Homo sapiens: one gene and its partner. The main gene of each other region encodes a partner of the protein of the gene in region 2 in a complex. Each region holds a gene or a part of one and is shown on either strand. Other genes may lie near its edges.

Region 1 (8,296 bases), on a different chromosome or scaffold from region 2:
TATTTGATGTCTCTGAGCTTCTGGCTCCTTTTCAGGTAAATGAAAACATCCTAAAGAATGAAACTGTTTCTTCAGCCATACTTAAATTTTTTTTTTCTGTGATCTGAGAGACAAAACTTTATTAATAGCCAATCATCTAAAAAGGAGGGAAAATTATGGAACACAGGAAGATCCTTACAAGAAAATTTCTTGGTAAAATAGTTCCAAATTTCAGCACCCTCCCCGATGAGTTAGTGAAACAGCAAATGGACCTCACTAAAAGGCAGTTAAGCTACAGACTCTGAGGACAGTTACAAAGGAGGAGCTTTCCTGCAGAAAACAGAACCAGAGACAGGCTGAGTGTGAGCTAGTTTTAGGCATTCATGTTGAATAACCATTTGTTAATATGGCTGTATCCAATTATAATCAATCAATCAGGTTAAAAATGGTTATTGTGTTGAAAATATTGTGTCAAGTTACTATGATGAGAAAGAGATGATGTGTGTGGAAGTCCTGACAGCACAGAACTTGTAAGTAACAGAATTTCATCAATCTACACATATAAAAGGGGGAAAAAACCCCAATGCTGAGGACTAGCCCCAGCCTCCCAAACAAAAAAAAATCCCCAGAAGTGGAAATTCATTATGTCTTAACAAGACTTGAAATAAATTATGTTCAGACACAGGCTATGTATCTCTTTGGTTCCATATTTACCATGTAATTTTCAGAAAAAGAATCCTCCCAACATTTGCAAGTACATATTCTGGCAATGGAAGACCTATTTCTGTTAAATAACCAGGTGAGTTATTTCTGTTAAAATAATAACTAACTTTTTTCTATTGAAAAAAATAGGCATATAAAAATTGGCATTTAAGTTTTTAAGAAGTAATGTAGTTTTTGCTTTCTCTGTAATTTAATTAATAATTATATCAAAATGAAAATGAACACTGAAGATCTACTAACAAACAAGTACACTCTTAAAACTCTCTAAAAGGATGAGTGCTAAATTAAATTTTCCCATTTTTGCTGCCCTTTTTTTATTTTTTTTTTTGTTTTAACCCTGAAGAAGTTTTGGTAAGGAAATTGCAATATCAAACAGGATATAAAAATATGTTAAATAATTTACTTCATTAAAACTCAGAAAAGGGTAGGGTAAGAAAGATGTAACCAATACAGGCTTATAAAAAAGATGAAGTCACACTGCTATATTATTTTATATTTTATTCAATTTTAATATGGTTTCCATTATTAACTTTTAAAACAAAATGATTTCCAGTTTAAAAAACAATGCACTGACCACATAATTCCTTTTTTATTTTACACAGTTATACAAATATTCTAAATACACATTTTGTGTTCAAGATGATGGCAAATAAGATTAACTGTACAGTACATAAGGAAAGAAAATATTTTAAGTATATTTAGAAGCAATAGAAATGTCTATACAAAACAAGCAAATGGAATAAAATTTTTTATTTTTAAAGTATTGCAACAGGCCCACAGGTTTGTAACAAAAATGTCTTTGCACAGTTCCTCACAATGCCCCATTAATAGCTAAAGCAAGACAGCATTTTTTAAAAAAAAATAATGTTTCAAAATGCTACACGTGGTACTACTGTTTGCACAGTTTGATCAAAATAACGATCTACTTTGAGTCAAGCAAAACCTAGAGGAAATATACCAAACAACTTGAAAATCATTTGTATAAAAATCATTGCACATTATTTTGCTCGTTTGAAAAGTAAAAAAGTGTATTTACAAAATATTTTGCAGTCAAAATTATAAAGTGAATGGATATCTCGAAGTAACACGTCTTGATACAGACAGTTCAAGGAAAACACACAAATGCTTTTTCTTTAAGAGGTTTTCAGTGCTCCTTCCACTGGGAAGTAAACATGATCTACTCAAATGAATTTACAAGATGGTACACATACTGGAGCAAATCCAACACCTGCATTATAAAACAATGTTTAAAAGGTGACAGAATGAGGAATTTGTACATTGTAAGAAGTGAGCTATTCAGAGATCAACAAGTACATTTTAATTCGGTTAGCATAGAAGTCTTCATAGTCTTCAGATAACAGACAGTGAACATCCTTGACTCGATGAAAGTTAAAAAGCACCATGCACAACAGTTTAGTGGTAAGCACTGAAAAAAATAGCACCTGTAATACTGTGATATTGACAATTTAAAACTGGTCTAATAACTGCCGGAGATATGGTGCCTTGGACAATTCTCTATTTACTCGGGAGAGTTTGAAAAGTACTGGGCAGTTCAGAGAAACACATGGGATGTGTCGATCAAAGCAACCTGTACAGTTCTTGCATATCTGAAAGCATAAGAGAAATACAAAAAATAATAGGAAAGTTTTTATGCGTGTATGCAAACAACAAATTTTTATAATCCCTACTTTCTAGACTACCACAGATTACTGGCAGACATACATTACAGAAACTTTCATTAATTTTAATCTCTTGGAAGCCTAGACTACCCTATGTTGAGACATTTCTAAAGGATATTATTTTGTAAAGATAGAGTACAAATTTCCCTAAGGATTCATTTAATTCCTAAGATTAACTTTCATTTACAATGGAATCCTATTAAAATCTACATAAGCTACCCAATTACCAAAGAATGTCTCTTACATGAACTATAAACACGTTTTCAAAGTACTTAGACTATATTCTCATATGCCAATCATAAAAAAGTTACTCTTTTTCGTATTCCAGAAGAGAAAAGCAACCTGCTGAAGCCACAGCAGAAAAACATAAATTGTGAAGATTTCATGGACATTTGTTAGTTCCCCAAATTAATACTTTCATAATTTCTTATGCCTGTCTTTACTGCAATCTCTGAACATGAATTGTGAAGATTTCATGAACATTTATCACTTCCCCAATCAATACTCTTATAATTTCCTATGCCTGTCTTTAATCTTTTAATTCCGTCATCTCCGTAAGCTGAGGATGTATATCGCCTCAGGACCCTGTGGTGATTGCGTTATCTGCACAAATTGTTTGTAAAGCATGTGTGTTTGAACAATATGAAATCTGAGCACCTTGAAAAGAACAGGATAACAGCGATTTGCAGGGAATAAGGGAGATAACCATAAAATCTGACTGCCTGCAGGGCCTGGCAGAACAGAGTCATATTTCTCTTCTTTCAGAAAGCGAATAGGAGAAATATCGCTGAATTCTTTTCTCAGCAAGGAATAACCCCGGGAAAACGAATGCATTCTCAGGGGTAGGTCTCTAAAATGGCCACTCTGGGAGTGTCTGTCTTATGCAGTTGTAGACACGGGATGAAATATGCCCTGGCCTCCTGCAGCACCCCCAGGCTTGCTAGGATTAGGAAATTCCAGCCTGGCGAATTCTAGTCAGACTGGTTGTCTGATCACGAACCCTGTTTCCTGTTAAGATGTTTATCAATGACAATGTGTGCCCAGCACGACATGGACCTTCATCAGTAATTCTAGTTTCACCCTGGCCTTGTGATCTCACTCTGCCTCTTTGCTGTTGTGATATTTTACTGCCTTTGAAGCATGTGACCCACTCCCTATTCGTACACCCCTCCCCTTTTGAAACCCCTAATAAAAACTTGCTGGTTTTGTGGCTCAAGGGGCATCAAGGAACCTGCCAACATGTGATGTCACCCCCAGAGACCCAGCTGTAAAATTTCAAAAAAAAAAAAAATCAAATAATGTGAATTTGAAAGTAGTGGTGCAGACCAGTGGTTCTTAACCCTGGCTAACAATGAGCTTAAAAATAAACAAGTGCCCCATCCCAGACCCATAATGAGTCAGAATCTCCAGGCATGAAAGCCTAAGAATCTGTACTTCTTAAGGCTTCCCAGATGATTTGGATGTATAATAAGATCTGATCTTAAGGAAAATAATAAATCATAAGGCAATTTTTAAAAAGAGAAGCACTATAATGTTTTACACAATGATCAATTTTTAAAAATACTTTAAAGTCTCAAGTTGCATATATAGTTAAAAAAAAGGTTATAAAACATGAAGAACATAAAAAAATTAAAAAGGATGCCAATGAAGACTCCAAAGGTTAAGAAAATGCAGGCCGACTTTCACCTGAATAGTGTAGACAAGTGATTTTAAAAAAGCCATACCAAATGGCAACAACTACTCTGGATTGTCTTTTAAGAGAAATCAAATACGCTCTAGTGAATTCTTTGATCTATATTTATCAAAGGGTTTCAGTTTCAGAGATGGCTCACAGGCCAGTGAAGTTTTGTTCTTTGCCCCAGTTATCTTCCAGTTAACCGAAGGGCACACTTTTTCTAAGTAGACTGGTTACTGTATCCAATATTATGATATTGTCACAAGCAGACTGCTTACAAACATGTGCTTCAGTATGCTCCATGAAGACTGAGTATGCTGTTCTATGATGAAGCCTTTGCTAATTAGATCTCTGCCAAGAGACTCAAATCTATTCCCAAATATAGAATTTCTGTATTACAGCTCTATGAATTGCAGTTACATTCAGGTGCCAGGACAAACTGATAAATATTTAAGCTCTTTCTGTGCTTGTCTGATAAATAAGCCAGGATGGAATTACTTGACTCACTAAATTTAACTCAGTGTTTAGTTTCAAGATCCTTTACTGGTTTAAACCCTGAGCATTATAGCTTGATTCAGGCTTACATTTAAAACTTTAGTGCCCCAACCCGGACATCTACTTTGTAGCACATAGGGAGGCAGGCACTTAAAAAATATCTGCTTTAATCTTTATTCTTTTTACTATCCTTTGGCTTTCTTGTTCAAAAAAAATTTAGTCAAGGCTGGGCACAGTGGCTCATGCCTGTAATCCTAGTACTCTGGGAGGCAGAGGCAGGTGGATCACCTGAGGTCAGGAGTTTGAGACCACCTGGCCAACATGGTGAAACTGTCTCCACTAAAAATACGAAAATTAGCTGGGCGTGGTGGTGCATGCCTGTAATCCCAGCTACTCGGGAGGCTGAGGCAGGAGAATTGCTTGAACCTGGAAGGCAGAGGTTGCAGTGAGCCAAGATTGCACCAACTACACTCCAGCCTGGGCAACAGTGAGACTCCGTCTCAAAAAAAATTTTTCAGTCAGATGCTTGCTTCATTTGCTTTCATTCTTTCATGTTTATGATTAACAGTGTTAAGGTGATGAATTTTTCTCTGAGGTCTGCCATCTAGAATCTGATTTGCAGTGTTTTCATTTTGTTTAACAGAATTTACAAGTGGAAGGATCACTTTTTTTTTTAGTTTGTAATTAATTACCATTTTATAGCATTGTATTACATTCATTTGTAATATTTCTACTTTTTGAAATGTACTGAGGCTTTCTTTTCTTTCTTTTTTTTTTTTTTTTTGAGATGAGAGAGAGCGTCTCATTCTGTTGCCCAGGCTGGAGTGCAGTGGCATGATCTCAGTTCACTGCAACCTCTGCCTCCTAGGTTCAAGTGATTCTCCTGCCTCAGCCTCCTTAGTAGCTGGGATTGCGGGTGCCCGCCACCATGCCTGGCTAATTTTAAATTTTAATTTTTATTATTTTATTTTTAATTTATTATTTTTGAAATGGAGTCTCACTCTGTTGCCCAGGCTGGAGTGCAGTGGCACAATCTCAGCTCACTGTAACCTCTGCCTCCCTGGCTCAAGCGATTGTCCTACCTCAGCCTCCCAAGTAGCTGGGATTATAGGTGCCTGCCACCATACCCTGCTAATTTTTGTATTTTTAGTAGAGATGGGGTTTTGCCATGTTGGCCAGGCTGGTCTCAAACTCCTGCCCTCAAGTGATCCTCCTGCCTCAGCCTCCCAAAGTGCTGGGATTATAGGCGTGAGCCATGATCCCCAGCCGAGGCTTTTTTTTTTTTTTTTTAACAGACTATGACTTTTTTTTTTTTTTTTTTTTTTTTTTTTTTTTTTTTAAGATGGAGTCTTGCTCTGTCACCCAGGCTGGAGTTCAGTGGTGTGATCTCGGCTCACTGCAGCCTCTGCCTCCTGGGTTCAAGTGATTTTCCTGCCTCAGCCTCCTGAGTAGTTGGGAGTACAAGGCTCATGCCACCATGCCTGGCTAATTTTTGTATTTTTTAGTAGAGCTGGGGTTTCTCCATGTTGGCCAAACGTTTCAAACTCCTGACCCCAGGTGATCTACCTGCCTTGGCCTCCCAAAGTGTTGGGATTACAGGCATGAGTCACCACACCTGGCCAGATATTTTTAAAACATTCTAGAAACACTTAAGAAGTATATTTTTTGGTACTGGGTTACAGAGTTTGATATATAATCACAAGGTCTGACTTATAATGTTTACAATTTCCATAATTTCACTTATTTCTGATCACTTGATTGGTCTTGGATTGAGAATGATGTAAAATCTCCTGTTTGGATGTGTTTCTAATTCTCATTACATCTCTAGTAATTTCTGCTTCATTAAAAATTTCTACAAATTAGTGCATGGGAGACATTTAAAACATTCTAGAAACACTTAAGAAGTACATTTTTTGGTACTGGGTTACAGAGTTTGATATATAATCACAAGGTCTGACTTATAATGTTTACAATTTCCATAATTTCACTTATTTCTGATCACTTGATTGGTCTTGGATTGAGAATGATGTAAAATCTCCTGTTTGGATGTGTTTCTAATTCTCATTACATCTCTAGTAATTTCTGCTTCATTAAAAATTTCTACAAATTAGTGTATGGGAGACATTCATTTGAACGTTCTTGAAAAACACCTCAAATTAAAATAGCTCTTGAAAGATGACAAACCATCATTATTTATAAATAGCATCGCTTTTTCTTTTTTTTTTTTTTTTCGATCCAAGGGTATACATGTAGGTTTGTTACATGGGTATACTGTATGATGTTGAGGTTTGAGCTTCTAATGATCCTGTTGCCCATGCAGTAAATGTAGTATCTGACAGGTGGTTTTTCAACTTTTCCTCTCCTCACCCCCCTTTTGGAATCCCTAGTGTTCATCATTCCCATCTTTATGTCCATGAGTACCCAATGTTCATTATATGTGAGAACATGCAGTATTTGGTTTTCTGTTTCTGCGTTAATTTGCTTAGGATAATAGCCCCAGCTGCATCCATGTTGTTACAAAGGACATGATTTTGTTCTTTGTTCTTTTTTTTTTTTTTTTGAGACAGAGTTTCGCTCTTGTTCCCCAGGCTGGAGTGCAATGCTGCAATCTCAGCTCACTGCAACCTCTGCCTCCCAGGTTCAAGCGATTCTCCTGCCTCAGCCTCCTGAGTAGCTGGGATTACAGGCATGTGCCACCACGCCTGGCTAATTTTGTATTTTTAGTAGAGATGGAATTTCTCCATATTGGTCAGGCTGGTCTCGAACTCCCGACCTCACGTGATCCGCCCGCCTCGGCCTCCGAAAGTGCTGGGATTTGTAGGCATGAGCCACCACGCCCGGCCGATTTTATTCTTTTTTTATGGCTGTGGCATCACTTTCTTTTAAACTGTATTTTTATAAGAAATAAGATGGCCGGGCATCATGGTTCATGCCTGTAATCCCAGCCCTTAGGCAGCTGAAGTGGGAGGATTGCTTGAGTCCAACAGTTTGAGACCAGCCTGGGCAACATAGTGAGACCCGATGTCTAAAAAAAAATAATTAGTAAAACATGGTGGGATATGCCTGTAGTCCCAGCTACATGGGAGGCTGAGCTGAGAGGATCACTTGAGCCCAGGAGGTTGAGGCTGCAATGAGCTGTAATCATGCCACTGCATTTCAGTCTGGGTGACAAAGTGAGACCCTACCTCAAAAATAAAATAAAATAAAAATAAATAAATAAAAAGAAAAAAAGAATGAACACCTAATGTTGAAGGAGGATGGGCTCTGGGTAAATTGATGGCACCAAGTAGTGATGTGTTTGTCATTGAGTGCAGAAAAAACATAAGAAAGTCTAGGAAAGGACCATTTAACAGCCTGACCTTAGCAGAGCCCTGGAGGTCCTGCTCTCATTTAGGCGTCATACTAGGATCCAGCAAGGGAATTTTCTATGAGAGTTGGCTGCTGCCATCAGGACAGAAGTCTATTAAATAAATAGAAGCTGGGAGCACCCAGTGACTTCAGTGGTTGTACTGACTAGAACCACAAAACTGGTAAAAAATGGCTGAAAGTTGGTTGGTAATAACTCCAGTGATATATTCCTTCTTTAATCATGCATTAACCAGGAACTTGTTCATTTATTCAATAAATATTTACAGACCAGCCCCATGGGCTTGGCTATATGCTAGGCATAACTGACTTGACAGTCAAAGAACTGGGCCTCTGTCCTCACTGGTTCATTTGCTATTTAGTGAGGAAGACAGACAAA
Region 2 (7,979 bases):
TTTGGGACCAAGGTGGAGCCCGAGTTTGAGACCCAGTTGGAGCCTGAGTTTGAGACCCAGCTGGAACCCGAGTTTGAGGAAGAGGAGGAGGAGGAGAAAGAGGAGGAGATAGCCACTGGCCAGGCATTCCCCTTCACAACAGTAGAGACCTACACAGTGAACTTTGGGGACTTCTGAGATCAGCGTCCTACCAAGACCCCAGCCCAACTCAAGCTACAGCAGCAGCACTTCCCAAGCCTGCTGACCACAGTCACATCACCCATCAGCACATGGAAGGCCCCTGGTATGGACACTGAAAGGAAGGGCTGGTCCTGCCCCTTTGAGGGGGTGCAAACATGACTGGGACCTAAGAGCCAGAGGCTGTGTAGAGGCTCCTGCTCCACCTGCCAGTCTCGTAAGAGATGGGGTTGCTGCAGTGTTGGAGTAGGGGCAGAGGGAGGGAGCCAAGGTCACTCCAATAAAACAAGCTCATGGCACGGACTGCTCACATTCTGAGGTGTCAGGGATGGGGAGGAGGGAGACCGGCTGGTGGGTGCATGGGCTATGGTCACTGTGGGCACCCCTGCAGGAGTCCCATAGCCAGAGTGCCCAGGGCTCAAGGCTCGCATCAGCAAGTGCTCAGGCTTTATTTACAATGCCGACACTGCAGGGAATGAACAGCCTCCATCTGGGCCTCTCTGGTCAAAACCACTTTTTTGAGTCAGGGGCCCAGCCCCAGGCCTCCCAGGTCATCGTCCTCTGCCCCGAAGCCCGAGAAGCTGATGGGCTGGCAGGCCAGGCTGCGCAGGTTCACAAGGCAGGCGGTCTGCGTGGCACTGAAGTCAGGGACAGTCACCAACAGCACTGTCTGGTCCTCAGGACCTGCAAAGAAGTCACATAGGACCCACTGTAGGTTCCAAGTAAGTCCTGCCTCAAAGAGAAGCTGCCAGAAATAAACAGGAGTCCCCATTGGCACACAGTGGGGCAGTGACAATAGGAGACCAGAGATTAGCCTTGAGAGGCACACAGGCTGGGAGCCGTTCCAGTCCCTGCCCAGCTGGCGAGGCAGCTTGGCTCCCACAGTGAAATGGCAGCTGTGCAGAAGACCTCAGCTGTCCATCCCACAAGGGCCAGGGGGACTCCACAATGCAGGTTTTCTTCTCTGTGAACCTTGTCCCCAGGTGAGAGCAAATCAGCAAATCAGCCTGGGCCCCCAGAAGACAAAAATTACCTCGGATGATTTTGGAGCCAAAGCTGGGGGTGTTGCCACAAAAGTAGACATGCGGGCACTCTGGGAAGATGAACGGGTCAGTTTTGTAGAAGGGGTAACAACCTGGAGGAGAAGGGGCAGCTCTGAGGAGGGTTCCGCCTCAGCACTAGCACTCTGCACAGGATGTGGGGCTGCAGCCCCTCCTCCCATTGCAGGCCAGTAGGAGACCCCCAGTGTGACAATAGGGGCACCTCCAGACATTGTCACAAGACCTTGGCCCTGCTGTTGCTGCCCGTTGGGGTGGGCAGCCATTGGCCTTAGAATTAAGATTCCAGAGTAGCTTCCAGAGCAGGTGCCAAGCCTCTGAACTTCTCCTCAGACAGTTCTCAGCAATGCTGGCAAGTGCAAACCCACAGGGGGACCCTGTGCACTTCAGGGTCCTGCCAGGCCTCCTGGCCCTCTGCTCCCACCCTGTATGGCTGAGCCTGTTACCTAGAGTGTCAGGGGCTGTGGGGCTGATGTGACGGACCCGCAGGGTCCACTCCAGGATCTCCAAGTGATCCTCCATGCTGCTGTATCGGAAAATGTCACTCACGTTCTGTCCTGATGTCCCCAAAAATCTGCAAGGCAAAGCTCAGCTGACTCTTGGCTTTGGGTGCCACCCATAGTGGTCAGCCCAGAGCTCATCTGGCGCTCTTGTGGGGATGCCCCAGAGAGAAGGAACAGATGCTAGGTGGGCCTCTGCAGCCCTGCCACCTTCCTGGGCCCTCCCTCCCCTCCCTTCTTTGTGCCTCCTGAGGCAAAAGGCTGGGTCAGACTGAAGTGTGGCTGTGCCAGCTACCTGACTCCATCAATGGTGGCCTGGTAGGGGTTGGTGACCAGCTGGAGCGTGGAGTAGGCAGTGGCCAGCGGGAACATGCAGGGGTGGAGGGGCTGCTGGGGGAGCGTGTAATTGGTGGGATCAAACTCGCCTGGCATCACGTCCACGGGCACTGAGGCCTGGAAGGCACAGGGCAGGGAGAGCTCACAGGGCCCCGAAGGAGCCCCCTACACCAACTCCGGCCACTCCCCCTGCCCTCCTGCCTGCCTTCTGTTGCCCAGTGGCAGCTTTGAAGACTGCAATCCCCATCACCCCTCCAGCCCCCAGCTCGCTCACGCTCAGCTGCAGGAGGATCTCATCCAGCATCTTAACAGCCTCCACGCTGGCTGCCTGGGTTTTCTTGGTGAGGTATTTGGCCTGGAATAGAAGCCCAGAAGGCCATCAGGCCCAGGCGAGTCCCAGGCTCAGAGGAGAGTAGAGCCCCACCAGCTGGAAGATGCAGTTGTTGTCCCATAGACCCTCACTCCCTTCAAGCCTCCCACCATCCTCAGCGAGGGCCTGGGCATGAGGAGCCCCATTGCAGGAGGCCCCAGAGTCACTGCAGGGCGCTTCCCACCGACCTGCGAGACCTCACAGGGTACCCTACTCGCCCTGGGGAAGGAGGGTCTTACAGGCTTGCAGGCTCCTGGGCTGGGGCTGAATGCAGCCAGGTGGGCTCCATACCTTATTGATAGAATCCCTGCTCTGGGTGCTGTGGCTGAGGAGGTTGCCAGCGAGGATAACCCGGGAGACGTGGGCGGCGCTGCACTGCTCCCCTTCGTCCCCAAGCTGCCCCGTCACCACATCCACCAGCAGCTGGGTGCCCAGCAGGCTCTCGCCTCCACCGCCACCCAGGCCCAGGCCGGACACCAGTAGCACAAACCTGCGGGAGAAGGTGGGGTCCTCCAGGGTGCCGAGAAGGGAGGCAGCCCCTCCTAGGTGCAACTCAAAGATTCCACTGACCATGAGCTGGTTCCAGCTCCCGAGAACTGCTGCTCACCTATCTGTGTCAAGTGGGGGTGCGGGCTTCTGGGGAGCAAGGTCAGCAAAGCAATAGTCCTCCACCAGAAACTTCCCGTCGTCTCTCACGGAGCCAAACACAGCCAGGACAGTCCCTGGGGAGCAGTGGCATCAGGCCTGAGCAGGGAGCCCCAGGTGCTACCACTCCTTCCAGTCACCCCAACGGGCAAAACAAGCCAGTTCTCCACAACCACATTGGTGAATTCTCACCTAGGACTCCAGGATGCATGCCTGCTTCCTGGAGTCACTGCCCTTGGATGGAGGTGGGGAGACCCATCTCCCAGCCAGGTCTCACCCAATCTGATGGCCTCCGACCGCCTGGAGCCTCACCTACCTCCTCAAGAACACACGTGTGCCCAGGCCACACCCCCCCACTCCCCCCAGGCTCCCCACTCACACCATCCCTAACACACCACCGCTGGGCTCTTCACCTGCATCACCCACATCCTCTCATTGGGCTCCCTACCCGTAACCAGCTTTGACACGTCAATGGTGCCTTTTAGTTTGATACGCTGCAGTTCATCTTCCAAGACCAGCTCGTCATCTGGGTGTATGTATTTACTCCGAGGAGGCTGGGGGAGCAGGTTGTGCTGGAATGCAGAGACAGGAGGTATAATCTTGGGGCCAGAGCCCACCAAAGCTCTGGTGTTAGTGAGCTGGCACCGCAGCCCCCACCCCTCTGGAGTCCATTGTCTCTGAACCTGCTTCCCCACAACCCCACCTCCAGGGAGGTGTTCTAGTGGGAGGCCAGGTCTGCCTGGCGGCCCCACTGTGTAGCACCCTGCCTCACCTCCTCGCTGACCTCCCGCAGGATGGAGGGCTGCAGCGGCATGGCCTTGAACAGAGTGCCCACCACACAGCACTTCTCCTCAGGCTGCAGTTCACACAGCTTCTTCACTCCCACTCCACTGCCTGGGACACGAGGGGTACAGACTCAGAGATGAAGTAGCCCCCCCGCCCGACAGAGGCCATGGAGGCCCTGCCCAGCACTCCATGAGAGGCCAATCACAGGGCCCTGGCCTTGCCAGGAGAGAACATCAAGTACAAGGACCCCCTGGACTTCACGGTGACAGTAAAAAGTGAGTCAGCCACAGGAGACCAGGGACTCTGGGTGTGGTTGGGCCCTGGATGCCAAGTGTCCTCATGAGAACAGAGAGACAGACACACAGACAAGAGGGAGTGTGAAGACGGGCAGAGCGGAGTGATGCGGCCACAAGCCCAGGAACACCAGGGAGGAGGCCAGGAAGGACCCTCCCCTCGGGCCTTCAGAAGGAGCCAATCCTGCTGACATCTGGATTTCAACTTCTGGCCTCCAGAACTGCCAGAGAGTAAATGTCTGTGTTTTTCTGTTATTGTTGTTTCTGTTTTTGTTTTTGTTTTGAGGCGGAGTCTCGCTGTCATCCAGGCTGGAGTGCAGTGGCGCGATCTCAGCTCACTGCAAGCTCCGCCTCCCGGGTTCACGCCATTCTCCTGCCTCAGCCTCCCGAGTAGCTGGGACTACAGGCGTGTGCCACCACGCCCAGCTAATTTTTTTTTTTTTGTATTTTTAGTAGAGACAGGGTTTCACCGTGTTAGCCAGGATGGTCTCAATCTCTTGACCTTGTGATCTGCCCGCCTCGGCCTCCCAAAGTGCTGGGATTACAGTCGTGAGCCACCGTGCCCGGCCATGTCTGTTGTTTTAAGTCAACCAGTTTGTGGTGCTTTGTTACAGCGCCTACAGGAAACTAATACAAAGTACTGCTTCACTTATACCTAAATTACAACACTGACTCTTAAAAAGAAGCATGCCAAGTCTCAACACAGCCCTGTCCCACAAATAACTGCCATTTTCTTTTAAGACTTTAGATTCTTCCACCCTACCCCCCACCCCCAACCCCCACCAAATGCTTCATCCTCTGAGACCAGAGATACTCAAAATGCAGACCTCAGATCCCCTCCACCCATTCCATTCCCGTGGAGTCAGGTGGCTTTGTTTACCCAGGGCACCTGGGCACCGTCTTCCCCAGCCCCTTCCCGGGATCCTAGGTATGAACAAGAACACATGGGAGGGGCTTGGCACTCTCGAGAAGAAAGGTATGGAGAATCAGTGAGGGCAGGAGGGAGGAATACAGGTGCCCACACAGCACAGATCCAGGCCTGGAGAAAACACCAAGGAGGTGACAGGACAACGCGGATGCCAGACCAGCCCCTTAGCCTAGCTGACTCCAGCACAGCCTGAGCCCCTGCTGCCTGGGAAGAACCAGGAATATTCCTCAAATCTACGCCCTAGGGAGCAGACAGAGGCGAGCAACTCAAAACAAGACAAGAAGGATGCCAGCAGCAGACAGAAATGCAACAGACTCCACATCCTCACGTATCCCACTCTTACTCTCCCCCAGGTGGCCTAAGCACTGTACATGTAACTCAGCCAACGCTGAAAATGTGCCAGGAGTAGATATTATCACCCAACTGATGCACAGAGAGGTTAAGCAATGTGTCCAAGGGCACACAACTGGGATCCAAGTGTATGCCCCTGAGCACTGGGCAGAATGACATCCCTGTAACCGATAGTAGGACATGCTTCCACCCAGGCAATGTGCTGGCACCAAGATCAAAACTGGACATAAAAGCCAACACTTGCCCCCACTCAGCCCACTGGGTCTAGGCAGGAGAACGACAACAGGCCATAGACAAGTAACTCGCCACAGTGACAAGTGCTGTGAACAAATGGTGAGCTGAGGTAGAAAACGGAGGCCCTCATTGCAAGGTGGCTTCAGGTGGCCCCTCAAAGAATATAACACTTCAGCTGACAGTGGGGCTTAGATGGGGCCATGGGAAGACAAGGGAAAGAGTGTGCCAAGTGAAGGGAAAAGCCTACAGCAGGAAGGTCTGGGCAGGTTTGGGGAACAGGTGAGTGGAAAGACCAATTTGGAGAGACAGGCTGAGCTTCAGTGAGGATGCACAGGCCACATGGAGAAGCCACATGTAGGTATTCAGGGTGGGGGCCAGCACCAACCACCAGGCCTGTGAGCGAGTGCTACTGCTGCCCCGCTGCTATCAACACATTCACTGTGGCAGCTGTTTGGTTTCCTGACCAGTCTGTGAGCACAGTGAAATCGCTATCGTCCATCACTGGGGAGCTTTTTTGACAGCTCCAATAACTGGAAGAGAAATGTGCGACCAGAGGAGGTGCTGCCGGAAAGAATCTAGAAGGTGGCATTGACATTGGGCCCAAGTAGTAACTGAGCTCTGAAAGGAGCCAAGGAAGGTGTCCCGAGGGCTGAAAGGAAAGTGAGGAAAAGCTACCGGAGCCGCAGGAGGGAGCCCCTGATTATGTGGGAGAGGAGAGGTGAACAGCACTTTGTCTCAGGTAAACAAAACAGAAAACATCCTGATATGATTTGGCTCTGTGTCCCCACCCACATCTCATCTGGAATTATAATCCACACGGTGTTGACGGAGGGACCTGGTGGGAGGTGACTGGATTGTGGGGGTGGATTTCCCCCATGCTGTTCTTGTGATGGTGAGTGAGATCAAGCCATCATGCGATCTGATGGTTTAAAAATGGTTGGCAGTTCCCCTTGCTCTCTCTCTCCTGCTATCATGTAAAAGAGCCTTGCTTTCCCTTCACCTTCTGCCATGATTGTTAAGTTTCCTGAGGCCTCCCCAGCCATGAGGAACTGTGAGTCAATTAAACCTCTTTTCTTTATAAATTACCCTATCTCAGGTAGTTTTTTATAGCAATGTGAAAATGGACTAATACATATCCCTAATGAATTTGAGGTTCTAGCTAGATTTCTAGGCCCAGGGTTCTCCTGCCTGCCTATAACGAGAATTGATCTTGGCTTGGCATGGGATGAGATGGGCTTCTCAAAGCTCCCCAGGGGATTCCAATGTGCAACTAGGGCTGAGATCCATTTTGCCTGGTGCCAAGGACAGTAAAAATGAGTAAGACCTGGTCTCACCTACTAAATCCTCAGTTTAAAAATATAATAGGAGATGGATTTGAAAATTACCTGGAAAGCCACTCTTATGTAAGTGGTAGGAATGGGGGAATGCAGCAGCACCTAAAACTCAAATAAACTCAAAGGGGGAGATGGGGGTCCCTGCTTCACCACCAAGAGTAATCCAACTGCAGGAGAGATCACCAGGGAAGAAATGGGGGCAAAGAACAAGGGTTGTGTTGGGCAGGCCACTTTATTAGGAAAGACAGAGGGCCCAAGGGACAGGAAAATTCATGGCCAGCAAATATGGGGGCCAGGAGGAGAGGCAAACAGACATGAGTGAACAGAGGGGGTCCCCTCGAGACCAGAGAGTGCATCCTCACCAGTCTTGGCTCCTGGTGCCTGGCGCCAGGCTTGCCACACTGAGGGGCTCTCTGGCTACAGCACAGGCAAATACCTGAATAATCTGCACTGAAGATAGGAAAACCATTTTCCTCTGCCAGTGAAGTAATCGCCATCACCGCCAGAACTAAGTCCTCATCTCCAACCAGCCTCTGAACTAAAACTAACTCCAAACCCACAAATTACTTAATTTAATCCTTGTTACTATCTTAAGAAGAAACTGAGGGAAAAAGAGGTTAATTTTCCCAAGGTAACAGGAAGTGGGATCAATTAGATAAACTGTTCCCATTCTCTTGCAGAACACTTCTAAGTTCAGGGATGCTGTGGGGGAAGCACCTTCCCAAACTCTCACTTACCCCAGTGCTGCTGGGCCCGGTTCTCCAGGAAGGGTCTCATTTGGATGAGGCGGGTGGCATAAATGTGGGCATACTGCCGGCTAAAGCTGCGCTCTCCTAGCCGGAAGGGTTGTGAGGAGTTGGTGTAGGTTGCCACTGGCACCCGGGCAAAGGTGGCATTGTTGGCTGATGGTGGGGACAGTAGAGTGTGGGCCCTCTGGGCAGCCTGCTCAGAAAACATGGCCACACTC

Evidence for each region.
Region 1: POLD2 (region 2) and REV3L share a complex: the UniProt entries of both Homo sapiens proteins name them as parts of the tetrameric Pol-zeta complex.

The regions. Positions count from the first base shown.
Region 1 is NC_000006.12:111,297,848-111,306,143, forward strand, and holds the end of REV3L (DNA polymerase zeta catalytic subunit), read right to left. Parts: intron 2,310-8,296; coding exon 2,169-2,309; 3' UTR 1,186-2,168; downstream 1-1,185. UniProt on the Homo sapiens protein: Catalytic subunit of the DNA polymerase zeta complex, an error-prone polymerase specialized in translesion DNA synthesis (TLS). Lacks an intrinsic 3'-5' exonuclease activity and thus has no proofreading function.
Region 2 is NC_000007.14:44,114,085-44,122,063, forward strand, and holds the end of POLD2 (DNA polymerase delta subunit 2), read right to left. Parts: coding exon of another isoform or gene 7,970-7,979; coding exon 7,750-7,969; intron 3,981-7,749; coding exon 3,859-3,980; intron 3,659-3,858; coding exon 3,535-3,658; intron 3,164-3,534; coding exon 3,049-3,163; intron 2,932-3,048; coding exon 2,733-2,931; intron 2,427-2,732; coding exon 2,346-2,426; intron 2,189-2,345; coding exon 2,031-2,188; intron 1,810-2,030; coding exon 1,682-1,809; intron 1,313-1,681; coding exon 1,211-1,312; intron 862-1,210; coding exon 701-861; 3' UTR 596-700; downstream 1-595. Other genes in the region: AEBP1 (adipocyte enhancer-binding protein 1 precursor), read left to right, coding at 1-177. UniProt on the Homo sapiens protein: Accessory component of both the DNA polymerase delta complex and the DNA polymerase zeta complex.